Linked DNA regions of Homo sapiens: region 1 is linked to region 2. The links come from fine-mapping of genetic effects on gene expression. Tissue or cell type: cerebellar hemisphere. Region 2 holds a variant in brackets; the other region holds the start of a gene. All regions are shown on one strand. Distances are between the middles of the regions.

Region 1 (2,681 bases), 55 kb before region 2:
AGGGGGGTGGGTAATGCATGAGCAGATTGAAGGCGGAGTAGACGGTCTCTTTGTACATGCCGCTGGTGCACTCCGGGGCCTTCAGGCCTGGAAAAACCACAGCTGGGTCAGACACACCAGCCCTGGCAGCGGCTGGGACTGAAGGCTGTCTGCTCTTGAGAGAAAAAGAATTGCCAAGGGGTCCCCTGCAAGTTCCTGACTTGGGAAGGAACGGGCTGGGAGTATCGGCAGTGCCAAGTTTTAGGGGAAGGACCTGGAGGGCAGGCCTCCCCGAGGTGGCCCCTACTTGACCTCCCACCCCCCGCCCTCCAACCAAGAAACCTTGGCCAATTCTGTCTCCTGAAGGCGGCGGATTAGTCAGTCACCTGGGCAGGAGGGGAGGCGGGGATGGCGGGGGTCTGTTTACTCCTATAAAGGTCAGGGCACCGGAAGTGACTCGACCCGGCGGCGCCCGGGAAGCCCGCCCCCCACTCTCCACCCCTGGGTTCTGCCGCCTCCTGAGCTGCGGTGGGGGAGGCACCCGGCTCCCCGCGGTCCTTGGCGTCCCCGTCCCACCGAGGCCAGGGCCTGAGCGCGACGAAGGGAAGCCGGGCCGGGCAGAAACTCACCGTCCTCCAGGGGCTCTGGAAGTTTGTCCGGGAAGAGTCTCTGCGCAGCGTGTTCCCGCCCGAGAGCCTGGAGGGAGAACCGGAGGGGAGTGAGGGGCGGTGGGACCGCGGGGGTCGGGGCCGACGCCGGGGCAGGGACGCTCTGCGCGCTGGAGACCCCGAGGGCCGCGCGCAACTGGGGCGGCGCGGCGCGGCGACCGCGGGGGAGGAGCCGGCGCCGGCGGGGGCTCACCTCGGCCTCGCCGCGGGCCCCGGCGCCGGCCCCCGGGACCCCCGGGATCCCTGCGCCGCCGGCCGCGCCCTCGGACTCGTTCACGAGCGACGACTTGAGCTCGGCCAGGTCGCGCTCGGGACCGGCGGCGCTGTCGCGGCTCTTGTCGTCCTGCTCCTCGCCTTCATCCTGGAAGGCCAGCAGCTCGTCCGGCGCGCCGAGGTCGTCGCCGCCGCCCGCGCCGCCCCCGCCGGAGTCCAGCTGCGGCATGGTGCGCTCCGCCCGCCGGGGCGCGGGGCGCTGGGCGCCGGGAGTGCGGGGCGCGGAGCCGGCCCGGGGGGCGGCGAGCCCGGAGTCCGAACCTCCGAGCTCGGATCGCGGCGGGCGGAGCGCGGGCTGACTCCGCCTGGGCGGGCTGCAGGCGCGGGCTAGGGCGCGGGGCAGAGCGGCTCCGCGAGCTGGCGGGTCGGAACATCAAAGGCGCCGCCGGCCGAGTGCCGGGGGCGGGGCGGGCACTGGGGGCGGGCCGGGCCGGGGGCGGGACACAGGTCCGCCCCGCCTCTCCTCTCCCGGGAGAGGCCGGGACGCGCCCACTCGGCATAGCCTTAAAGGGCTCGCTCTTCCGGAGCGCACCCTGAGAGAGACGTCGGACAAGCCTGGGAATGATCACCCTTCTCCCGAAACGCAGAGACTCTAACGGGAACTCCTGACCCCGCTTACTCACCTACAACCAGATATTCCCCCTGCTTTCTGCGCCCAGGTTTCTCCTCCGGCTGTGGAGGGCGGGGGTCCCCTAGGCCCTTGGGACTTGGGCGTGGCTTACCATCGCAGCCGTGGTGTGAACTGTATCGTGCCCAGGCTCCAATGCGCCCTGTGCTTTGAACTGGGGGCTTCCTAGGGCTTGAGGCTGCTTGAGGCTGTGCTCGTACCCCAGGGAACCGGCAGCGTTGGAACTCCGCGGCGCTGTTGCGGCTCTTGCCCCATCCTCCATCCCTGTGCCAATCAGGGACTTCCTTCTAGGCCGCCTGCATACAGTGCGAACATAAGTATACCCCCCTTCGCACATTTATTGAGCTCCTGTTGCGTGCAGAGCTTATACATCACACATCTGTGACGGGCCCCTCAGTCAGGCGACGGCTCCGAGCCGCGAACACAGCCAAGAGCACCGGACCTCAGCCGATCCTCCAAGTCCCAGCCCCTATGACTCTCCCAACTCGGTTCCGTGACTAGAACCTGCAGCCCGGAGACTCGGAACTTTGGGCAGCCACGTGGGCGCGGGATTCCGACATGGGTCGCTCGTCCACAGCAACTCAACCCTAGAAGTCGCATTTAGGGAGCCCATGACTCTGAAGTTGACCCTGGCCTGACTAACCCTCTAACCCTCGCTCGATCCAGGCTGAAACATCTAGATTTGCGGAGCGCGGGAAAGTGCCTGGATTCCAGCGCATCTGTATGGCACCCGGGTCTGCGTCCACGCGGGCCTCCACGGCGCGCTTGGCCTGGCTCAGCCCCTGCATCTACAAAAGACGCCGGTCCTTTGGATCGCGATGCAGTCAACAGCAGCTCCCCTAGCAGGTTTCTGTGCTGGGTTCACTGTAGACGCTCACGCCTCTTCTGAGAGCAGTTGGGATAGAGGGTATTTGGGGGAGGGCCGGGTATTGGACGCCTCTCCCTCTGAGGGCCCCACAGGACCCCTGGCAGCGGTGCAAAGCCGGGCCGGAAGACAGCCGTGCCTCCCTCCGGGTCCAGGCCCAGCGTGGCTGGCTGTGGATCAAAGAGCTAGGCCATGCTTCCCTGTGTTCAGATCCTATCTGTGCCCGCCCAGCCGGGTGTCTCGGACACCAGCCCCCACACCCCCCTCC
Region 2 (2,681 bases):
TTACAACTAACTTAAAAACTAGAATTTTACCAAGACCATTTTACTATTGTATCCTCCTTCCCCATCCTTTGTCTTCCAGCCTACAAGCAAGCTCTATTCTGAATGTTGCAGTTATAAATTCTTTGATATTTTAAAATAGGGTTTGAGCTATCATATTATTTTCTGTACTTTTCAATGTGTTTGAAATGCTTCCAAATTTTAAAAAAGGCAAAATATGTCTATTCACAAGTGTATCATATATCTCTAATAAGAAACACGATTATTGGAAAAGAAATGTTTGGAAATGACTAGGAAGCTTTTTGGTTTCCTAATGTGTACTGACCTTACTATTCATTCATTCATATTTCCTGAGCACCTTCCTGGTGCCAGGCACTGTGCCAGGTGCTGGGGATGCAGACACCTGCATTGGACGGGTGGTCGATCCCTGGCTGGGATGAGGTGCGTGCAGCGCATCAACGTGGTAGCTGGAGCACAGTTGCACTCAGTGGTGACCAGTATTATTATTATTAGTTCCTAAGAAATGGCACAAAGTTTCCAGCTGCTGAAATCAGGATCAGTTTCTGACTCTTGGCTTTACTGTGCCCAACATGTGCTCATTAGAGTCTGTATCTGGCTTGTTCCATGTACTTGATGAGGCCAGCATCACTAGCAGGGGCCCTGGGGTGTGGGAGAGGATCTCTGTGGAACAGCCCTGGAGGGCGTGCAGGGTGCAGAAGGCCTGTGGATTTTAGAGATGCTCAGAGTCCTGGGGGTGGGTGTGATTGCTCCTGAAGGAGACACACAGTCTCCCTGGGCCTCTGCCCAAGCCTGGCTTTGGCTCTCATTCCTTGCTGTTTGTGCCTCTCTGCGTCACCTTCAGCCACACAATCAAACATGTATAACAAAGAAACCCAAACAAGACATCAAATTTGGGTAGCATTTAAGTTTGCTGTTGCTGAGAATCAGTTCTTGAACTGAAAGGAATTTTGTTGGGGGCAGGATTGAGGTGGGGGGTATAGGGTGTGGTTGGCTTCATTATACTAGCACAAAATAATGACCCAGTTCTCTTGAAAATTCTGGAAACCCTGTTGTCATGGACAAGGATGCCCAAATGGCTCGGGGGTGTGCTGATGCTCAGAGGCCTGTGGGGTCAGCTCCTGTTTGGTAGGAGCTCATGAAACAGCGCGACGGGCTTCTAGCTTCCTGGCCCTATGAACAAGGCTGCTCCAGGCCCTCCCTGGGTGTGGGGATGTCTTAGAGGGCAGAGGACCACTTCCCTGGGGCCACTGCCTACAGCACGTGGGAGGCTCTCCCATAGTTTCACTTGAAAGATGCAGAATGAAAGTGTGCTAGGCTCTGATGCCAGCCGCTTCCTCTTGGTCTAGAGCCAAGGAAGCCCTGGGTCAGAGCATGTCCAAGCCTCTCTCCTGGGATCACATCACTGAAACTGTACCTTGGCTCTGTGTCCTGGGAGCCTGGGAGCCTCACGTTGGCTGGTGGGGAGGGAAGCTGTAAGAGTGCCCAGTCTGCTGCTCCTGTCTGGGCCTTTCTTTCCTTACAGCCCTCAGCCTGGAGCTCTGGAGCTCCTTGCCAGCGTTGCCACCCCATAGGCTGGCAAAGCCTGCTAGGAC[A/G]GAAGGCCTGTAATTTGTGACTCATGGCCTGTTGCCGACCATGGGTTGGCAAGCCACAATCTAGGCAGTGCTGAATCACTCTGGCTTGCCTGTTCTGCTGGCATGCAGGGTGCATAGCCTCTGCATTGGCACGCGGGCATGAGGAGGCGGTTATTGTAAAGCCCACCCTTGATGGCTGGGTGGAGTTGGGCTCAGCTCCTGGGGAGAGGGCAAGGTGGGGCCAGGGACTGTCTGCTGGGGCTGCAGTTCCCTGCAGAGAGGCTTGTGGAGAGGCCTTGGAGTGCCGGTCACGTTGCTGTGTCAGGTTCAGACACCCTCTGCCTCAGGAAGGCCCTGCTTGCTCAGGTCCCCTCAGTCCCTGGGAATGATAGGCTCCATCTTTGCTCTGTTCCCTATCTGGCCCTGATTAGAATGCAGTTTGCATGATCAAGGCTGGTGCAATGCATGGTCTGCCTAAGGTCTCTCAGGTGGCCTTAAGAGTCAGAGTCCTTGGGCCGGGTGCGGTGGCTCACGTCTGTAATCCCAGCACTTTGGGAGGCCAAGGCAGGTGGATCATGAGGTCAGGAGATTGAGACCGTCCTGGTTAACACGGTGAAACCCCTTCTCTACTAAAAATACAAAAAAAATTAGCCGGGTGTGGTGGCGGGTGCCTGTAGTCCCAGCTACTTGGGAGGCTGAGGCAGAAGAATGGCGTGAACTCAGGAGGCGGAGCTTCCAGTGAGCCGAGATTGCACCACTTCACTCCAGCCTGGGCGACAGAGTGAGACTCCGTCTCAAAAAAAAAACAAAAAACAAAAGTCAGAGTCCCTGGCTGGCCAGGGACAGCCCGGCTGCTGACCTGGGTCCGCTGGCCACTCACTCAGCCTTTTTATCATCATCAGCTTACAAAACAAGGACAGAAGTCAAAATAGTGAGAAGCAACTGGGCGTGGTGGCTCACACTTGTAATCTCAACACTTTGGGTGGCTGAAGCAGGCAGATTATTTAAGGTCTGGACCAGCCTGGTCAACATGGTGAAGCCCCATCTCTACTAAAAATACAAAAATTAGCTGGGCATGTGGCGGGTGCCTGT

What was found. PIP is the estimated chance that this variant, and not a neighbour inherited with it, causes the effect.
Region 1: TCF7 starts here. The variant in region 2 is fine-mapped to the expression of TCF7 in cerebellar hemisphere (GTEx, PIP 0.98).

Annotation. Positions count from the first base shown.
Region 1 is chr5:134,113,315-134,115,995 of GRCh38, reverse strand. It overlaps TCF7 (transcription factor 7), which reads right to left and starts at 1,315. Exons shown (of 10, transcript NM_003202.5): 1 at 841-1,315; 2 at 609-675; 3 at 1-87. The coding sequence starts at 1,089. It also overlaps a transcript of VDAC1 not described here. RefSeq lists a silencer at 1,239-1,358 and an enhancer at 1,449-1,678.
Region 2 is chr5:134,058,036-134,060,716 of GRCh38, reverse strand. It overlaps a transcript of VDAC1 not described here. Among named protein-coding and RNA genes, the nearest start is that of VDAC1, 54 kb to the right of the region's middle. RefSeq lists enhancers at 1,041-1,637, 1,638-2,236. The variant A/G (reference allele first, on the strand shown) is at 1,611.